Homo sapiens: one gene and its partners. The protein of the gene in region 1 interacts with the protein of each later gene in a pairwise test. Each region holds a gene or a part of one and is shown in the gene's direction. Other genes may lie near its edges.

What was found. Proteins that work in one complex are often made in the same cells at the same time.
Region 2: the proteins of TNKS (region 1) and CPAP interact in binary tests that used the Homo sapiens proteins (3 or more experiments, as listed by UniProt).
Region 3: the proteins of TNKS (region 1) and UBASH3B interact in binary tests that used the Homo sapiens proteins (3 or more experiments, as listed by UniProt).

Annotation. Positions count from the first base shown.
Region 1 is NC_000008.11:9,558,912-9,565,933, forward strand, and holds part of TNKS (poly [ADP-ribose] polymerase tankyrase-1), read left to right. Parts: intron 1-7,022.
Region 2 is NC_000013.11:24,919,860-24,926,686, reverse strand, and holds the start of CPAP (centrosomal P4.1-associated protein), read left to right. Parts: upstream 1-3,825; 5' UTR 3,826-3,926; intron 3,927-6,827. UniProt on the Homo sapiens protein: Plays an important role in cell division and centrosome function by participating in centriole duplication. Inhibits microtubule nucleation from the centrosome. Involved in the regulation of slow processive growth of centriolar microtubules.
Region 3 is NC_000011.10:122,650,873-122,658,723, forward strand, and holds the start of UBASH3B (ubiquitin-associated and SH3 domain-containing protein B), read left to right. Parts: upstream 1-4,849; 5' UTR 4,850-5,177; coding exon 5,178-5,338; intron 5,339-7,851. UniProt on the Homo sapiens protein: Interferes with CBL-mediated down-regulation and degradation of receptor-type tyrosine kinases. Promotes accumulation of activated target receptors, such as T-cell receptors and EGFR, on the cell surface.

The DNA of each region.
Region 1 (7,022 bases):
TGTATAGGCTGAGAAATGAAAAAAATTATCAGTTGACTGGTTATTATGATAGTAATTGAATTGTCACGGAATAGCTGTTTTAAAGATGAGAAATTGGTACAATCCCTTGGATGGAAAAATTTAAAAACTGCAGTTTATTTGTTCCAGAAATATTTTAGTGTGCTTAGATGATCGGGTGTTAAATACTGACACAATTGTGTAATGGCAAGCAGCCCTTAACCCTTATGGAGCTTACAGTCTAGTGGGGAAGCATAAACAACAACAACAACAAAAACCTATAAAGTATCTAGTGTCTAATCTAGAGTGATAGGAAACGTATATTATACTGTCTGTCCCAATATGTAATAGGAGCTCTTATCCTTGTTTTAGAGCAGTTAAGGAAGTCTTTGTAGGTAGATTTTTTTAAAGCAGGAATTAAAAGGGTGAGCCCAAGCTAGCCAAGCAAAGGTTGGAAGGGACGATGTTAACTAATGCTTTTATTTATTTTTAAAAATGAGTTTACAGTTCTATAGAATGAAATGAAACAATTTTTTTTTCTTTCCAACTTTTAGGTTCAGGGATTACATGTGCAGGTTTGTTACATGGGTAAATTGTGAATCTTGGGGGCTTTAGTGTACAGATTATTTCATCACCTAGGCAATGAGCATAGTAGCAGATAGGTAGTTTTTTGATTTTCAGCCTCCCCCATCCCTACCCTCCACCCTTAAGTAAGCCCCAGTGTGTATTCTTCCCTTGTCTGTGTCCATGTGTACTCAAGGTTTAGCTCCCACTTACTTAAGTGAGAACATGTGGTATTTGGAAATCATTTTTAAAGATCTCAGATGTGGTATGAAACCATATTTAAATCCTTATCACTTTATTTATATTACCTTAAGAATAATCATATTCTTTCCAGCAGTAAAATTAAGAATCCTTTGTATCCTATCTTGGATTGTGATAATTTGTTTAGAATATGGTTTAGAGACTGTGTTAATAATGGAATCATCCTATCTGCAGTTAAGACAAAATCTTGTTTCCATTGTTGATACAGGTTCTCAAAATACTATTTTTGATGCCTTTGTAAGATGGCTTTGTAAAGATGAGCCATTCTTTTATTGTTGACTAGAATTTATATGAGACTTTTTCTTCTACAGATGTGGTCCTTGACCCTGGTTTTCTATTATTTAAAGTATAGCAGTCAAAATAGTTTTATAAATAGTACCAATTTAGAGTGATACCTCCTTAGGATGGTTTCTAGTAGTGACATATTTTTGTTAAAGGACCCATATATTCTGAAGACGTCTCTTTTTATAGAAAAGTTTAAATGAGGTCTTTTTTTTATTAAGGCCTTAGTAAAACATTAAATTCTGAGATTTTATAGTATTTACATGAAATTGAAGAAATCTTGAAATGGGCTTCCTGTTAGTTAACATATACGACTTGGATTATGATAGGTAATGTGAGGTATTTTAAAATAAAAACTAGTTTTCTTTGTTGGGTTTTGTTTTTAATGGTATCTACTACAATACATATTTAACAGTACAGAGATTTTTCAACTCATTCCTGACTCTTCTCTAGATTTTTCAGCATGGCCATACTTGTCTTTTTTTTTTTTTTTTTTTTTTTTTTTTTTCATTTCTCGCCTTTGTACAAATGTCGTTCCTGTTAATAATAGAAGTCACCATATACTCTAGATTGTTGCCTATCAGTGGGTAATAAAATGAGTCAGAATGCTGCAGTCTTGGAGTGGGAATTATCTTACACTTCTCGTTGCCTGGCAAGATCCTTTATATTACTTGTAAGCAAATGCCCTGTCTGAGGATGTAAGAAGGGTCTAATTTGGTAATAGAAGAAAGGGACCTAGTTTCATAAATATCTTCCCAGACTTAAAATTGTTGATTATAAACTGGATTACCTTTTACTTAGTGTTTTCTTAAAACCTTAACACTTTTCTGAAGGTACCTCTTTAAAAAAAAAAGTTTACAGAGAACTTTTAGTTAGAAAGATGTGCAAAGTGTCTCTTTCTTTTACCTCAATGATACTGCTCTTTGGAAGCAAATGATTTAAAGAACAAATTAGCCATTTATAAGATGATATGTAAATTTATTGCTAATAGCAAAAAATTTGTAACAAGCCAACTGTTCAACAATAGAGAAATGCTTACATAAATTATAATACTGTACAATTTCTATTACATGTGTATTCCTACATATATGTTCTTTTATCCGTCAATCATCTTTTTATTAAAGCATGTGAGTGTAAATAGTAGGCATCTGTGCAGCTTCTCCAAATATGCTAATTTGCATATCATTATCTAAGTTCAGTATTTGTGTAAAGATTTATCTTTTAGTGTGAAATCTGTGCAAATCTTATGTGTACATTCACTGAGTTTTGACAAATGCAGATACATGTGTAACTGAACTTATGACTTTCCTTATAGAAACTTCAGAAAGTTCCCTCATACCCCTTATCTCAATCTTGTCACTACCCCTTTTCCCTCAGGCAACCACCATTCTGATGTTTTTTCCACTATAGAATAAGAGTTGCCTGTTTTAGAATTTCATATAAATGCAGTCATACAATATTTAGTCTTTCTGTAAGACTTATTTTGCTCAGCATGTTTTTGATTTTGTAACGTGTATCAGTAGTTTCTTTTTACTGCTGAGTAGATTTCATTATATGAATATGCTGCAGTTTGTGTATCCCTTCAATTGATAGACCCTTAAGCTGATTCCTGTTTTGGCTATTATGAATAAAGTCGCAATGAACATTCTTATAAAATCCTTTTTGTGGACACGGATTTTCTTTCTCTTGGGCAAATACCTAGTATTAGAATCTCTGGGTCTTAGGGTAGGTAAATGTCCGGTTTTATAAGAAACTGCCAACACCTTTCCCCAAAGTATATGTACCATTTTACATTCCCATCAACGATTTTTGATGGTTGCTGTTTGATTTTGCTCTTGTTGCCCAGGCTGTCGTATAATGGTGCGATCTTGGCTCACTGCAACCTCTGCCTCCTCGGTTCAAGCGATTCTCCTGCCTCAGCCTCCTGAGTAGCTGGGATTACAGGCGCCCACCACCACGCCCAGCTAATTTTTGTATTTTTAGTAGAGACGGGGTTTCACCATGTTGACCAGGCTGGTCACGAACTCCTGACCTCAGGTGTTCCATCCACCTCAGTCTCCCAAAGTGCTGGGATTACAGGAGTGACCCACCACGCCTGGCCTTATATATCTTTTATGAAGTTTTGTCCTTTTTTTTTCTACTGGGCACACTTCAGTTTTATTCAGTTTTGTTGGGTTATCTTTTATTATTAAGTTTAAGAGTACTTTATATATTCTGCATACTAGTGCTTTGTGGGATAAATGTGCTAATATTTTCTCCCAGGCTATGAATTACTGATTAATTTTCTTAATGAGAGTCATTTGAATAGAAATTTTAAATTTAATTTATATATTTATTTTATGGTTATTGCTTTCTCTGACTCATCACCTGGATAAGAACTTTTATCTGGCCCCAAGTCATAGAAGTTCTCATACATATCCTATGAAAATCTTTATGATTTTAGCTACATTTTATCAGATGTGACTATATCCACTTCAGTATTCTTATGCTGTGTGTGGCATTTTTCTATTCATTCACTTTCAATCAATCTGCCTTTATATTTAAAGTGTGTCTATTATAGACAGTATATATGTGAGTGTTGCTTTTTAAGACATTCTGACAATCTGTGTCTTTTAATCTACCTCATTAACTAATATTGATACTTCCAATTCAAACTCAGAACTATAGGGTTTTTACTTACCTCTTCTATGTTGCATCTGGCCATCATTTCTTCCATACCTAAACTTTTATTTTTCAAGGACCTGCTAAGAGCTGTTAATGTTGAAGGTCTGATGAGAATGGGAATTTCCTTCCCTTAGCCTTTTTTTTTTCTTTCTAGATGGGCAAAGGATTTTTTTTTTCTCTTCCATTAAAGACCAGATATTCTATTACAGTATGTCTTGGTGTTCGTTTCTCTAGATAGATTTTCTCAGGTATGTGGTATGGCTTTTCTTTACATAGTTTCAGATCTTTTATTTCAGAAAAGTTTCTCAAATTATACTTTTTATTATTCGTTCTTTTCTTTTTATGTATATTGAAACTTTGCCTCTTCTAAATTTGTTACTTGCTCCATTTCTTTAATACGATATATGTAAAATTTACCATTTTAACCATTTTAAGTGTACAGTTTTGTGGCATTAAGTTCATTCGCCATGTTATGCAGCCATCACCATTGTCCATTTCCAGAACATTTTTTGTCATCTTAAATAAGCTCTTGTACCCATTAAACTATGTCTATCTGCCCCCAAACCCCTGATAACTGTCACTTTCTTTTGAATCCTATTAAAAAATATATATCTTCTTTTTTTATTAACTTTTTTTCTCCTTTCATCTTCTATTTTTCTTAAGGCAGGAGTTGGAAACTTTCTGTAAATGGCCAGATAGTAAATATTTTAGGCTTTGTAGCCATATGGTCCCTCTCATAGCTACTCAGTTTTGCTTTTATACTGTGAAAGTTTCCATAGACTATATGTAAATGAATGAGTGTGATTGTGTTCCAGTAAAATTTTATTTATGAGAATAGGTGATGGGCCAGATTTGGTGTATGGGTTGTAGTTTGCTGACCTCTGTTATAAGGCATTATATGTGGCATTTTTTCCATTTTGTGTTCTTTCTTTTGTAGTCCTTTCTTGAAATTATTTTTTCTTTTATTTTGAATTATTTTCTGAACTCTCTCCTTTTATTTCTAACTCAGGCACATGCTATACGTTCATATCTTGTATCATTCTCGTATTCTCTTTTAGCTAGTGTTAAAATAATTGATTATAATTTTGTCTGCTTTGTGGGCATTTTTTTCTGTTAGGTATTAATTGTCTGCGGGGATGTTATTCTCCAAATTCTTCTTGTAAGAATTTTGTATGTATTTGACCTCAGTTACTTTCGTTGCTCATTTTTACAGAAATTAATTACTAAATAATTTCAAGGATAAAAATAAAGGTCTGAGATAGTTAAGGTAATCCCCCCTGTCCCTTTTTGTTGTGCTACACCTGCAGCTCTGGCCTAGAATAGATCAAGTCTCTCAGTAAGGTCTGCAGGATCATCTTTTACAGTAGTAGCATTTAAATTATGAAACATCATCATTTTATACCTCTGTTTATATAACCTATGAGACATTTTTTCAGGAACCTTAACCGGAGACATTGTGCTAAGGGCATTTTATAGATAAAGTCTCTTCCTGATAGATTACTATTTAGTCTTTTTGGTAAGTGTAGTCCAGTCACCTGTAAAGCATTCCCTACCCCATCAATGAATTGAATAGGTCACAGGCCAGGTGTTCTTTCCTGACGGGAAGTGATTCTTTGACAGTTAACAGGCCAGAGAAATACATTGGGAGGATAGGAGGCATATCATCAAAGGTCGAGTTGTGAGCATAAATATGTTAAAAAAAAAAATCTCAAGCTTAGAATCCAGAAGAAAAGTAATCAAGGAATGTGAATAATTCTGAGAAAATAAATTTTATTGTAATGTTAGGTTTGGTTTTGGAAAGGAATAAACATGAGCTCTGTGATGACATGAGGGAGAAAACACTATAGTAGTTTAGTCTTTAATATTTTTAACAGCCTCCTTTTGTGTCATAGACAAAGAATCTTTGGGTAGCTTACTATAAAATATTGCAGTAGATAAAATTGAAGGCAGTTGCTTCTTACCTTTTTATTTTTCCCCATGTCATTGTCCTTGAAGCTACTTTGGCTTATGTTTATTCTTCTGATAGCTAAGTTTTGGTGTAGCCCTGCTCTTGAGGCACCTAATACCATGCATCATTAATAGATACTTATAGTAAGAATTGAATAGGATTAGTTAAGATAAGATGGGTTGGAGTCTGAGGGCTAGGTGCAGCCTCCCCTTACGGGGCTTAATAAAACCAATGAAACATACACGAGAAAGAAACATTCAGAAATGGACTTTCAGTTTCTTGGTGAATAAAAAGCATTATATCTTCAAGAAAAAATGAGTAGGGTGGGTTTCCTAGGGATTTCTACTAAAGCCTAGGAGCTCAGGATAACCCCGGGGCTCATTAAAAAAAAAAAATCACTTTGATTTCAAGTAATTGAGGAAAGTTTTAGGTGTTTTGTTTTTGTGTGCCCGTTGTTTTTCTTTTAAGGCTTCATCAGATGTCTAAGTTTGCTTTCACCAGAGCGAGTTACTGAGTTCTCTTCTCGAATCTTGTTTTGCCAGTTTGTTCAGGTATCTGTTTATAGAATTAAAGCAGCGTGAGGGTAAACTTTTTTTTAAGCTGTTTTTTGGAGTGTGTCAGCTCCCCATTCAATTTAGACAAGTTATTTATTTATTTATTTATTTTGGTTTTGGAAGAGGGAAAATAACGTGATGTAAAATTTTTTCTCTATCCCTTTTGCCTTTTCAGTAGAACAAACTAAACTGCTGGTAGGTGGCAGATGTTTGGACTTGTTTATTTTTTCTTCTTTGGTATATTTTCTTTTAAAGTGAGGAAGCATTTGGTAGTTAGCAGATGATTTCCATGAACTACAAGTCCAAACTGAACAAAATTTGTTTTAAATTTACTGATTGACTCAAAAAACCTTAAAGCTATAGTCTCTGTGTCATTAGTTCAAAAATAAACTAAACCAGCCAGGCGTGGTGGCTCACGCCTGTAATCCCAGCACTTTGGGAGGGCGGATCACAAGGTCAGGAGATGGAGGCCATCCTGGCTAGCACAGTGAAACCCCGTCTCTACTAAAAATACACACACACAAAATTAGCCTGGCGTGGTGGCGGGCGCCTGTTGTCCCAGCTACTCGGGAGGCTGAGGCAGGAGAATGGCGTGAACCCCGGAGGCAGAGCTTGCAGTGAGCCGAGATCACGCCACTGCACTCCAGCCTGGGTGACAGAGCAAGACTCCGTCTCAAAAAAAATAAAAATAAATAAAAATAAAAATAAACTAAACTCCCTGATGCCTTGTTAAAGTGTGTGTATACACACTT
Region 2 (6,827 bases), on another chromosome or scaffold:
TCTTTTTTTCCAATTTATTGGAGGAGGGGGCTCAGGGAAACTCTGTCTCCTCTGTGGCACCTTTACCTAGTAACAGTGGGGCTGAGGGAGGAGGAGGCGGTCAGGTAGGTGGATGGTTCCTCTTCCCTTTCCTTTTTAGGCTCTTTTGTGTAGAGTGGGGCCAAAGCAGCCCTGATTAAGGCCCATAACGTTAAAGATGTTACTGGGACCCGTTTCCCTTGTGCATGATGTTATTTAAGATTTCCCCTCACTTGCTCCCAGAGTTCTTGGTCTAACGTGCCTTCTTCTGGGAACCATGGGTTATTGAAAACAACAGTTTGCATTAGGCCCCTTAACTGAGCCTCCGAGACCCAGGCTCTGCTAGCTTTAAGCAGCTGTTTCAATACTTACATATAGTGTTGCTGTTGAGCTGATAACTGTTGTCCCATGATGAAACCCTAGGTTGAAAATTCCCTCAAACTTGGAAATCCTGAGTGGGCACCAATTACTTACTTCCCGCACAGTCTCTTCACCTCATTTTTGGGGGTTCCATCGTGATCTGTTGCAGCATTCCTCACACAGGGCACCAGTTGCTGGGTCTGTCCCACAGACCCTGGCTGGACGATGGATGAAACGAGTACTCAGACGCAGATATGCAGTGTAAGAGCAGCTAGGGGACTGCTTGGCACTAGCGGCCAAAGAGTGAGCAGGCAAACAGCTGGAGCTGCTTGCTTTTATTCAGTATAGACATAATGCTGAAAGCCTGGAGCAAAAACAATCTGTGGGTAATTAACATTATTGTTCCCCTTTCAGGGAACGGGTCACGCATGTGGATGATCAAAGGTCAGCTCCTGGTCAATGTAAGTAAACAAGCCTATTTACGATAAATTCCCCTATGCTTCCTGGTACCTACTCCTTGCCCTCTGCCTCAGGGTCAGAAAACAGCTGCCTTCAGCTTATTCTCCCTGGAGGCTATGCAGAGGCTTCCGACTTTTCAGAAGGTCTGCTCCTTTCCCTATAGTTTCTCCCACCACTCTGACTGATCTATAGGAATCATTCCTTGGCCAGGCTAGCCCTGATGTCCTCCCCCACTTTTTTTCTTTTTAAGAGTTGGCGGTTTCACTCTGTTGCCCTGGCTGTAGTCTCGTGGTGTGATCATAACCTTCAACTCCTGGGCTGAAGTGATCCTCCTGCCTCAGCCTCCCAAGTATGTAGGGCTACAGGTGCACACCATCATACCTGGCTAACGTTCAAACGTCTAGGCTCAAATTATCCGCTTCAGTCTCCCAAAGTGCTGGGATTACAGGTGTGAGCCACTGCACCTGACATGTCCTCTCTGGATAGAGTGGACACTTGCTACCATCAGACCAGCAATGAAAAGCTGTCAACTCTTTGTCACTCAGATCAACTTTGATTAAAAGAATTATTACCAGCCAAGCACAGTGGCTCATGCCTGTAATTCCAGCACTTTCAGAGGCCAAGGTGAGAGGACTGCTTGAGCCTACGAGTTAGAGACCAGCCTGGGCAACAGAGTGAGACCCCTGTCTCCAAAAAAATAAATAATGAAAAAGAATTATTTCCAAATAATTTGGGAATACAATAAGTATTATTCTGTGTCTGGCACAGCATTTGACAAGACCCACAGAGCTAGGCTTTGGTAGACAAGAGTTCACCAACAGTTAAATTCTTTATAAAGATGAAAACACCTCCTGTTCATTGACTTTTTACTATGTGGAGGTTTTTTGCTACTTTTTCATACATAGTCTTTCTTTTAATGTAATCTTCTTGACAGTCCTATGAAGGTCTCATTATTATCCACCCCTGTTTTGCAGATGAGAAGACTGGTTTCAGAAAAGTTGAGTGCTGAAGACTACAAAGCTGTTTGTAAGTTATCAAGCTAGGATTTGATCCCAGGTCTGCCTGATAAATCCTGGACTCTTAACCATGACATAGGAGTGCCCTCTTGACTCCTATGATGGCATAAAGAATTGTATCAGAACGGGTAATCTGGCATTAAAACCCCTGTGCCACAACCGTTAGTCTAATTTTTCTCTACAGCACCATCTGAAGATGCAACAAGGATAGGAACCACTGATAAGGTAGAACATTTTATTGTCTGGCAGAGTAGAAGATGGAAGTTCCTCCCCACTAGCCTTTCCACCTTGTAATGGATTTGAACCCTTGAAGCTTAGTGGGCAGTTTTGAGAATTACATGGGCTACAGGTGAAAACTTACACATTATAACCTTAATTTAACAGCCAGTTAAGACTTGAGTGTGGTAAAAGATTCATTTATTTATTCAATCAACAAACAATGTGGCACTACATACTATATTAAAATAAAAACATACGAATAAAATATAGGCACAAAAATAGAGGATATTGCGACTATCCTTAAAGATACACATTTTAGGAAGAATGATGAGACTTTTGGGCATGCTTTCAAGCCAAAGGGCTATCATAAATGAAAAGGAAGATTGTTTGGGTCCTTGTCTGGCATCTTAAGTAGCTGTGTGATCTCGGAAGTCTCGGGCTTTAGCTTCCTCACCCACAGTGAAAATTAAAAAGAAAAATTGGGCCGGGCGCGGTGGCTCACGCCTGTAATTCCAGCACTTTGGGAGGCCGAGGCGGGCGGATCACGAGGTCAGAAGATCAAGACCATCCTGGCTAACACGGTGAAACCCCTTCTCTACTAAAAATAAAAATAAAAAAATTAGCCAGGCGTGGTGGCGGGCGCCTGTAATCCCAGCTACTCGGGAGGCTGAGGCAGGAGAATGGCGTGAACCCGGCAGGCAGAGCTTGCAGTGAGCGGAGATCGCGCCATTGTACTCCAGCCTGGGCAACAGAGCGAGACTCCATCTCAAAAAATAAAAATTAAAAAAAGAAAAGAAAAATTGAAAAAAGAAGCAAAACCGAAATCTTGATTTAGAGAAGTAGACTCTTTTTGAAGTAGAAAGCAAAACAAATTTTGGAGGACCAAATTTCTGTGAAATAGTTTTGTCTTTAGCAGTCGTTTGTTTCAGTTATAACGGTTATAAATGGCACTTCATTTGATTTCTTTAAACATTTTACTTGGCCTGCTGTTTAATCAGACATGGAAGCCAGGTATGTAGTACTGTGGTAACTCACGGTGCTGTAACTTCCTAGATTAAAGGGCCGTGGCAGTTAAAACGAAACAAAACAAAAAAATTTCTTGAATTCTGCACTGTCAGTATTCAAACTAGTTTCAGAATCTAATGGACACACTCTGCCAAACCACCGATTAGCCATTTGAGGAGAGATGAAAGATGCCTATTTTTGGAGTGAATTCTCATAGGGTTATTTTCGTCTTACGAAATGGTGTAGCGGACTGCCCTTTTTCTCCTTTACTAAGTCACCTCAGCCAAAGCGGAAAACAAAGAAAAAAACCAAACCAAACCAAAAAAACGACAAAATAGACCGTACGCAAATAGAAAAAAAAAAAACAAAACCCAAAACACCTCCTTTAAGCGTCGGTTGGGCTCTATGTTAGCTTTGACTCTCCGTGCTCCCTGCTTTGCTGGGAACACGGAGATCCATCGCTCCGTTAGGCGTTCCCTTTAGTTTTCTAAGTGTGGGAGCCTGGGGCGACGTCCACCACGGAAGGTCTCTCCCGGAAACGGTTTTCCGCCCCGCCACGCCGCCCGCCTACGTCGACCACTGGCCCGCTGCTGGTCGGAAGGCGGCGCGCAGTCCATCCCCCGCCGGGCAACGCCCGTCGCTGTGGCGTCACTGGGAGTTGTAGTTTCACTGGGCTCAGCGGTGCCTGCGCTTTAGCGCAGACGCGCGGGTGAGATCCTCACTTCCCACAGGACCTCGGGACGGGGGCGGGGCTCCGACAGAGGCGGCGATTGTGGCGGCCCATTTGTAAATGCTGCGGAGATTGAGGTGTCGGTTCGTGCTGCTGAGCTGCCCAGGCTTCACGGAGCGGTAATTTGTGGGCGAAAAGAGCGGAGGAGCTCTTTGTCCGCCGCCCTGCGCCGGAGATGGACGGCGGTGGGCGGGCAGGACTCTGCTCGGACCTCGGGGTTGGCTCGGCGGGGCGAGGAGGGAGCGGGGCGCCGGGACGCGCTCAGGCCCACGGGCGCGCTGAGGCCCACGGCAGTTCAGTGGCTTCGTTCATTCGCGCTGCTTTGTTCTTCGCAGAGCTGGGGAAGCCGGCCTCTCTGGGGTGTCTGTCTCTCTGACCTGGCTGTGGCGGAACTTGAGTTCCTGTGGGCAGCGCGGCAGCCGCAGTCCGCTGGAGCAGGGTGGTGAAGTAGCGTTGCTGGCTGTCCTAAGGGCCGGTCTTGCCCCAGCTTTGTCAAGGGCTTCTCTCTTGAAGCTTCGTGTGGATTCATGGCTTTCAAGAACGTGTTGTATTTTAGGGGACTGCTAAATCACTTCCCAGACCAACTAGTTACTTCTCACGGTCTAAGAGTGGCTTTGAATTTGCTGTTTGTATCCACTCTCCTCCCTCACCGTGCAGAGAATTTATCTTTTTTTCAATACTGCTTTAAAGAATGTTTACATAGCACTTTCTGGAGATTTCAAGGCTGTCAGTTTGTTACATTTTTTAAAAGTTTTATTGAGGTATAATTGCTATACAATAAAAATGGCACATGTTTAAATGCATTCCATTTGATGAGTTTGACATACACGTGCACCCGTGTCCTTCAGATTTTGATATCTGTAAAGTCTGAGTCCACATACTAATCCTATCTCGGCATATATATTATCAATGCTCCCTTTACCAAGACCTCAGTATCAATAATAAGTAGCAGGTTCTGGTGACGCTTTTTTTATACTTCATGCTGACATTAAATATATTTTTAGAATCGCGGTCATGAAATTGAAGGTATAGAAGGTGTGTTTGGTGGGGAGTTGGAGGAGGAGATGCAAAAGTCTGGCTGCTGCATCCCAAGACTGCTTGCACTTGTCAGTCTAGTAGGGAATTTTTCTAGTTTTCCATATTATGAAATGACCTTGTAGTTTGTCTCCCTTCTGAATTTGGATTTCGAAAGATTTTCTGCTAAGGTCATTGAAATTAAGCAAAGTTACGTGGTTGATTTTGAAAAAAAAAAAGTCATTACTTTTTTAGATTGGTTTCCTACTGAAAAACAATTTGCTTAGAAAAAGTTTTTACAAATTATTCAGGAATAACAGATATCCAGTAAAGTGCGCTAATCTTAAGTGTACAGCCTAAGTGTATCCACCCCCTGTATTAACCTTCCCAGTTGTTGAAGTCAAAAATTTGGAGATGAATCTCTTAAGTTTAACGTTTTATTTGGGAAGAAAGAATGGCGGTTCCAGGCGTACAGACCAGGTGGTCTTCAGTATGTCCAAAGAACAAAGAGAAAGCTGGAGGTTTTATAAAAAAGAGAATTGTTATATCTGTCGCTCTTCGAGAAAGTTCATTGGTTCTCCTAAGGTTCTGGGGAGGCAGCAGGTCCTACCGAGTGGGCCATGGTGGAGGGCAAAATTAGTCCTACAATTGCAGCAAGTTACCTCAGCATCTATAGATCAAATTGGTCTCGGGTTACAACCGGCAGTTTCAGCATACTGACTTATAGAGAATTCCATTCTTGGAGCAAAGTTGTGTGTCCTGAGTGCCTTTCCCTCTTGACTTCTTGATTGTTTAGTTGGCTATAAGAATGACTCAATTTGTATGATCAACTTTCACACAGACAGGACAACTCCCATTTTCCTGGATAACGACCAATATGCCATTTATAACTATGGGTTTATTTTGCCTGTTCTTCAGCTTCATATACATGGAAACATGGGCCAGGTGCGGTGGCTCATGCCTGTAATCCCAGCATTTTGGGAGGCTAAGCCAGGTGGATCACTTGAGGTCAGGAGTTTGAGAACAACCTGACTAACATAGTGAAACCCCGTCTCTACTAAAAATACAAAAAAAAAAAAAAGCCAGGTATGGTGGTGCATGCTTGTAGTCCCAGCTACTCTGGAGGCTGAGGTGGGTGAATCGCTTGAACCCGGGAGGCTGAGGTTGCAGTGAGCCAAGATCACACCACTGCACTCTAGCCTGGGCAACAGAGTGAGACTCCATCTCAAAAAAAAAAAAAAAAAAAGGAATCATATTTGTCTGATGTTCACACATCATTATTTATTTTTGTTACTGCCTGTGGCAGCAATTTTTGTTTTTTTAAATGCCTGAATAGCTGTGGTTCTCAAAGTGTGATACAGTGAGAAAATGTACATCACATTGGCATTTTTGTTTTTGGTTATTAAATGGTTGGCAGGCAATCATCTTGTTCCAAGAAAATCTTCAGTTGCAATTAATGGTACAGTAAGCCTTTATACAACTCTTCTACAACTCAACCAGGGAGCGATGGCAAAAACACAGTATCATTATGTTCACTGTCTTCTATGTCTTTTAACAGTTCTATAAACTGGCAGTTGATAGCATTTGTACATACTGAACAATTGTAACAACTATATTCATGATACTATTCGTGGATTATGCTTCAGAAAACCAAACACAAGAATTTTCAATGTGTATTATACAGGGGAATGAATCAGCGAGGGAAACAGCAGTCTCTTGTTGTAAAATCCCATTAAATTCAGATTTTTTGCCTTATAGAATGACACCATCTGTCATGATAGAAACTGATTTTTAGGCTGGGCGCAGTGACTCACACCTGTAATACCAGCACTTTGGGAGGCCGAAGCAGGAGGATGGCTTGAGCCTAGGAGTTCAAGATCAGCCTGGGCAACATAGGGACACCCTGTTTCTACAAAAAAATTAAAAAATAAAAAATAAGCTGGGCATGGTGACACATACCTGTAGGCCCAGCTACTCTGGAGGCTGAGATGGGAGGATCACCTAAG
Region 3 (7,851 bases), on another chromosome or scaffold:
GGACCAGGTGTGGTGGCTCATGCCTATAATCCCAGCACTTTGAAGGGTTGAGGCAGGAGAATCAGTTGAGTCCAGGAGTCCAAGACCAGCCTGGGCAACACAGCAAGACCTCATCTCTCCAAAAAAAAAAAAAGAAGCTGGGCATGGTGGGACACACCTGTAGTCCCAGTTACTCAAGAGGTTGAGGTGGGAGGATAGTTTGAGCCCAAGTTGAGACCACTGCACTCCAGCTTGGGTGACAGAGCAAGACCCTGAAAAACACAAAGCAAAACAAACAAAACAAAAGAAAAAAAAAGGAAAGAAAAAAACACTTAAAAAAATTAGATCTTGGCCATGCCCTGTGGCTCATGCCTATAATCCCAGCACTTTGGGAGGCTGAGGCGGGCAGATCACTTGAGGTTGGGAGTTCGAGACCAGCCTGGCCAACATGGTGAAACCCTGTCTCTACTAAAAATGCAATAATTAGCTGGGCGTGATGGCACATGCTTGTAATCCCAGCTACTTGGGAGGCTGAGGCAGGAGAATTGCTTGAACCCGGGAGGCAGAGATTGCAATGAGCTGAGATCGTGACACTACACTCCAGCCTGGGTGACAGGGAGAGACTCCGTTTCAAAACAAACAAACAAAACAAAAAACAAAAAAACTCCCAACATATAAAGCTGATAGACTTACAATGAAAGAAAAGAGGATACCACACTACCCTCTTAATCCTCAGTTGGGTGACCCCAACCCCTGTCCCTCAAAGTTCCTGGGGGTCCCTTGACAAAATCCTAGCGATCCCCAGGCTAAGCTAATCCCCTCATTTGGCAAGCAAGGAAGTTGAGGCCCAGAGAGGGGCAGCACATGGTTTCAAAATCTTCTGACCACGAAGGATCCCCTTAAAGTCTAGGGGTGAAAGTCATTCCCAGCAGTTCCAAAGCTGCCTTTGTTTGGCAAGGCAACACCCCAGCCTTTAGGATTTGAAACAGTGGGCAGACTTTACTGCCTGTTTTTGTTGTTGTTGTTATTTGTTTGTTTTTTTGTTTTGTTTTGTTTTGGGACGGAGTCTCGCTCGGTTGCCTAGGATGGAGTGCAGTGGCGGGCGTGACCTCAGCTCACTGCAGCCTCTGCCTCCCAGGTTCAAGCCATTCTCTGTCTCAGCCTCCCGAGTAGCTGGGATTACAAGCACCTGCCACCACACCTGGCTAATTTGTTTGTATGTTTAGTAGAGACAGGGTTTCACCATCTTGGCCAGGTTGGTCTTGAACTCCTGACCTCGCGATGCACCCGCCTCGGTCTCCCGAAGTGCTGGGATTACAGGCATGAGCCACCGCGCCAGGCCTTGTTTGTTTTTTTTAACAGGGTCTCACTTTGTCACTCAGGCTGGAGTGCAATGGTGCCATCTCAGCTTGGCTCACTGCAACCTCGACCTCCCAAGTTCAAGCAATCCTCCTGCCTCAGCCCTCCAAGCAGCTGGGACTACAGGCACACACCACCATGCTGGGCTAATTTTTATATTTTTAATTAAGATGGGGTTCACCATTTTGCCCAGGTTGGTCTCAAACTCCTGAGCTCAAGCAATCTGCCCACCTGCCTTAGCCTCCCAAAGTACTAGAATTACAGACCTACTGCATGTTCTTATTGTTATTACTTGACCGTTCCTCAAGGACAGAGTGAAGGAGAAGGAGAAGATATAGGACATGCTTCAGAAATTGTGAGTGCAGCCAACTGGGTCCATCCTGGGTCTCCCTCTGGCCATCTGAGAGGATGTACCATAGCAAAAATATGGCAGGGGCCAATGAGGGAGGGTTAAACATGCTCACATGAACAAAGAGAGCTTTGTGGTCCAGAGTGGATTCTGACATGACCACACACGGAGACATGTCAACTTGCTTTCCCTTCTGAGGGAGGAACTTCATGCTGATGTGTCAGCTCTGTCCCTGTGCAAGACCCCTACTCCCATCTCACTTCTTTTGGCCACTGTAAGATATACTGCCAGATGAATAGTCATTTCTCTTCTCTCAATTTATTTATTTGTTTAGAGATGGAGTCTTGCTCTGTCACCAGGCTGGAGTGCAATGGCATGATCTCAGCTCACTGCAACCTCCGCCTTCCAGGTTCAAGCGATTCTCCTGCCTTAGCCTCCGGAGTGGCTGGGACTACAGTCACATGCCACCATGCCCAGCTAATTTTTGTATTTTTAGTAGAGATTGGGTTTCACCTTGTTGGCCAGGATGGTCTCGATCTCTTGACCTTGTGATTCGCCCACCTCAGCCTCCCAAAGTGCTGGGATTACAGGGGTGAGCCACCGCACCCAGCCCCCCTCTTCTCTCTTTGTAATAGAACAGTGTAGACATTTATGAAGCTTTTCCTAGCTTTTCAACGTCAACACAATTAAAGCACAATGCATCTGAATTGCCAGCCCCCCAACCCAGTGCAGAACAAATGGCAGGAGTCCTAAATAAAACAGGGGTTTGCACTGAGCTGAAGACAAGTGAGGAAGCCAAGCTGGGATTTCTGTAAAAGTGTCCCAGACAAAAACAGTTTGCATCTCAGGTGCCTAGTTTTTCATAGTGCTTTTTCCAGTCTACCTAAAACTATTTTTATATGCATCATTTCCTTTATCTTACAGTTTGCCTAAAGGCAGGGAGAAAGACAATTAATTCAATTTTTCTGGAGAAACAGAGATCCAGCAATTCTATGTCAAGGGGCATAGATGGAGTCAAAAAACTATCTTAAAGGCTGGTGTCCTTTTATCATCATAACAATGGTCGTTAACTAGTTGTTTGGCCAAATGTTAAGAGTTCAAATCTTGGCTCTGCCATTTACTAGCCATGTGACCTTGGACAAGATACTTGACCTCTGGCTCAGCACCTTCATTTGTAAAGTAGTTCCTAGTTCATAGTCTTGTCAAGGAATTGTTTGAGTCACATATGTAAGAAGCAAAGAACAACACCAGCATATAGTAAGTACTCAATAAATTTGAGTTATCATTTATGTAGCGCTTTATGGTTTACAAAGCGCTTTCACATACATTATTATCTCTTGACTAAGATCCAGATCATTTGACTTTCAGCCCAGGCATTTGGAAACAATTCAGAATACTGGATAAAATCCAGCATGTTTTACCGAACACATCCAAGGAGGCTAATACTAGGTATGGTGTTGCCAGCCCAGTCTTGTCTTTTTGCTCCATGTCCTGGAAGAGCATTCTGCAAGGTCTCCAGGATATCCCCTTTGCTCTGGAAGCAGCTACTACCCAGGAAGCATTAATTTTCCCTCATCCTTTGTACAGCAGGAGGCAGAATTAATACACATTGTTGCTTAAGCTCCAGCTGTCTTATCTCCCTGCTTCCAAACACCACTGGCTATTCTTTAGGAAACCAATTCCGGGCTCAGGGAGTTACACTGTATCATTTCCCCTGGTAAAACCTTCACAGGCCTTATAAAGCAACCTCAAAAAGCCACTCCATGGGTGCTGGTCACCATCCCTCCCCCATATTCCAACCAGGGACAGGCCCGGACTGACATTTCTGGAAAACCCAGTGTGTGCAAGGTTAGGTTACCACGGTCCATACCAATGAGGAAATTAGGCTGTAGAGAGAAGTAACTTGTCTAAGGCACCGCAGTGGATACGAGTGCTGTAGCTACGCACTTACCAGCTCTATGATCTTCCCCAACCTCTCTGAGCTGAGTTTTCTCATCTGTAAAACTGGGATAATGATTAAACACACTCCTAGGGTCAGTATAAAACTTCAGTGAGTTCATTCATTACGATTAGCACAATGACTGGCACATACAAGAGCCCAATAAATGTTAGGTTTTATTATTATTATTACCCAAAAAAGACTATCAGTTAGGGTGTACTCATTGCCTCTTTCATTATAGCAAGTGGGACCCTTGTCCCTGACTGAAGACAATGACTTTGTTTCCAAACGAAAGAGGGTTAGCATCCCCCAGCCAAATTCACCAGGTGGGGCATGGGGCATCAATATGGTTGTGGCTTCCACCATCTTTGCAGTGGGAGTAGTTTTGTCCAGCCTATGATACAATTCACTTATTATTGTGCAGTGGTGATTCGGTCCGTCTTTGAATCCTTTTATTGACAGGATATCCACTCCCTAATGAAATAAGCCCGTTCCCTTTTGAACACCTCTTATAATTAGGAAGTATGTTTTCTCTGTTCCTTCTTCCTCTACCCTCCTAGCCCTTCCTTCTTCTCCTCCTCCTTCCTCCTTTCTTTTTCCCTTCCCTCTTCTTTCTGCCCTGTCCCTCTTTTCTTGTCCCCTCCCAGGTCCTGCCACCTCTGAGAACCTGAGGTCCTTCTCCCCAACCCCTCTGCCCCACCGGGAAGGCACTATTCAGTCACTGACCATAACCTTGTAGAGCGCAGTAGGTCTTTAGTGCAGCCACTTGGCCGGCTGATTGGGAACTCAACTTCCGATGGTCCTAACAACCCTTTGGGTTTTGCAGGATCTTTGAGAAGCAAAACCTTTTACCTAGGCCTTACGGCTTGGCCTTCTGGTCCATTAGTATCATCCACCAGTTCACCCAATTTCCATTAATAACCGCATCTAGAATCACATGAAACTTGAGATGGGTTGATCTCCTGTCTTGAGGCCCAGCTGGGCGGGTATGCCAGCCAAGGAGAGGGCTGGGGCGCCGGGGGTGACTCTCGGGAGGTGAAGCACACAAGCAGCCCATAAGGTTGGGATCCTCCGTCTCCAAGTAGCGCGACTACAGCTCTTGCCCGCACGGAGCAGCCTCGGACAGCGCGGCCGCTTTAAGAGAGGGGCGGGGCCCGGGTACAGGCAAGTCAGGGCCAGCCCACAAGGCTCCTTTTCCTTTTTGATCCATTCAAAAATTACTCATTGCAAATTCCCGGACTGCTAGGCGAGGAGAGGGAAGGGGGCGGAGGAGACAGGGCTACTGCAGGCGCAGAGCTGGGGGCAGCCGGGGGCCCGAGTGGCTGAGGCTGGTCCCGCAGCGGCCGCTTGCCGGCGTTCTGGCTCCTGTGGCCTCACCAGGAAGCGTCAGAGTCCCGACACTGGGGAAGCTCGGAGCGCCGCCTCCGCTGCCGCCGCCTCCTGCCTGGCTCTGGGTCCCCGAGCCCCCTCCCCTGGCCCAGCCCGACTCCCTCCTCCTTCCCGAACCATCCGGCTCGGGCTCCTTCCCTGGCGATGGCTGGCCGCTGAGCCATGGCTCAGTACGGCCACCCCAGTCCGCTCGGCATGGCTGCGAGAGAGGAGCTGTACAGCAAAGTCACCCCCCGGAGGAACCGCCAACAGCGCCCCGGCACCATCAAGCATGGATCGGCGCTGGACGTGCTCCTCTCCATGGGGTTCCCCAGAGCCCGCGCGTAAGTGGCCGGGCTCGCAGCCCTCGGCGACCCCTCCCGCGCGCGCGGCCGGCCCTCGGCTTCGCTCCGGCTCGCCTCCCAGCGCCTGCGGGACAGGCAGCGCGCTCCCCGCTGCCCGAGACCTGTTGGGGGCGGGATGGGCGCGCTGGCAACCCGGGACTCGGCTCCGGGCGGGGGTGCGGGGGAAGACGCGGCGCGGGGGCGTTGGGCCAGGGCTCGCCGTGGGATGCCTAAAGCTGGGGGACGAGGGCGCGGGGTTCGAGTCCCGGGTATAGTGCTCAGCCTCCGCCCCAGCCGGGTGGAGCTCAGCGTTTCTCTCGCGCGCTCCCCTAGGTCTCCAGCGCCGAGCGCCTAGGGAGGCGGGGCCCTGCGGAGGACTCGGGCACCCTCTCCGTCTGGAATACTGGGCTGGTCTGGGATCCTCCGGTGTCTGGGAAAGGGCGGGAGACTGCGGGGCAGGGAGGCCGGCGCCCCCGTTGCAGCGGCTTCCAGCTCCGGATGTCGCTCTCGGGTTCGGTCTCCCCCTGGAGTAGGAGGAGCGGGAGCGTGGGTGTTCCTGCGTGTTCATTGATGGGGAGGATGGAATCAGAAGGAGAAGCGATCCCTCCAGGGGACCTGGGTTCTCGTCAGTGGTGACGGCAGCTCAGAAATCTGTGGGTGCCTGAGAGTAAGGAGGGGGAGCTGTTCTTCATCCTTCCTCTAGGAGAGTGGGGTAGGGGAGGGCAGGGAGAGCGCAGGTGGCTGCCCCTGGAGCCTGCTGGGGAGAGGCCTGTTTGCCAGCATAGGGTGGCGGCGGCCGGAGTCGTCTCAGGCCGGTCGGCTCAAGTCTCAGGGGCTGGAACTCTGCCTAAGAGGAAGCCAAGGCCCAGCGGCCAGGCCCTTCTCCCCTGGTTAATCCCTGCCGTGCAGATTTCTTAGGTGGGGACACAAGGCCTGGCGTCCGGACTGGGCGCAGCTTCTTTTCATCTTTGAATTACAGCACCTGAACAGGAGAGTTGGCCAAACTTAATCAGTGAGGGCCAAGTAAATGAAAGTCCTTTTTATTTTTTTCCCTTCTCACATTTTTTTTTCAGGTGATAACTTTATTTATGTATTTATTTTTCTGAGACGGAGTCTCGCTGTGTCGCCAGGCTAGAGTGCAGTGGCGCAATCTCTGTAACTTCCGCCTCCCAGGTTCAAGCGATTCTCCCACCTTAGCCTCCTGAGTAGCTGGGACCATAGACATGCGCCACCACACCGGGCTAATTTTTATATTTTTAGAAGAGATGGGGTTCTGCCATGTTGGCCAGGCTGGTCTCGAACTCCTGACCTCAGGTGATCCACCCACCTCGGTCTCCCAAAGTGCTGGGATTACAGGCAATAACTTTATGTCTCCCCTCCCTTATCTCTGGGCAAACCTTGTTTATTCTCTACTAACTTGGTTGTAATCTGTTAATCAAAGTAGACCCTTGAATTTGTTATTCTCCAGGCTGCTGGGACACGTTGGAGTGGCCTTAGAAGGCTGCAAAATGGACTGATGGTTTCTGCCTTCCACTGACGTCCCAATACGACTTCCTAATACTAGGGCTCCAGTTCCTGATACCAGAATTACAGGGAGAAAATGTGGGTTCTGCAGGGGTGTGTCAGGTGTGGACGCTTCAGGTGAAGTCGTCGGTGTGGATGATCAATGTGCACAGCTCTCCTTAAAAACTGGAGGTGGGGCTGGGTGTAACCCCAGCAGTTTGGGAGGCTGAGGCAGCCGGATCACTTGAGATCAGAAGTTTGAGACCAGCCTGGCCAACATGGTGAAACCCTGTCTTTACTAAAAATACAAAAATTAGCTGGGTGGGGTGGTGCATGCCTGTAATCCCAGCTACTTGGGAGGCTGAGATAAGAGAATCGCTTGAGCCCAGTAGGTGGAGGTTGTAGTGAGCCAAGATCGCACCACTGCACTCTAGCCTGGGTTACAGAGCGAGACTTCATCTCAAGAAAAAAAAAAAAAAAAAGCTGGAGGTGGGAGTGGGGAAGTCAGCTGGGGAATGCTGCAGAATTAGCATAGTCTCAGGCTACTGCCTTTTTTGAAATAAGGCCAGCATTAAAAACCTAAATTGCTTAATTAAGGGAAGAAATACTTAACTGAACTCCTCAGTCATATTTGAGATTCAAATTCAAATCAGCTTTAAAGGGACATCTTTTCTCCTGCTCTGAGTCCAGGAGGTCTTGACATGTCTTGACAGATTAGCATAAGGGTCATTTTTGGCTTGTTTAACCCCTGAGGTCTCCTAATAGCTAGCATGTATTGAATACTTACTCCATACTGTTCTAAGTACTTATATCTTTATTACCCATTTTATCCTCCTAGCAACTCAATGAGGAAGGTACCACATGCCCATTTTATGAATTGGGCAACTGAGGTTTAGAAGGGTTGCATAACTTGCTCAAGGTCACAACAGTAAGCAGTGAAGCTGGGATTCAAACCCAGGTATTCTATCTGCACAGCCCAGGCCTCACACCATCTAGGGCCAGTAGGGCCA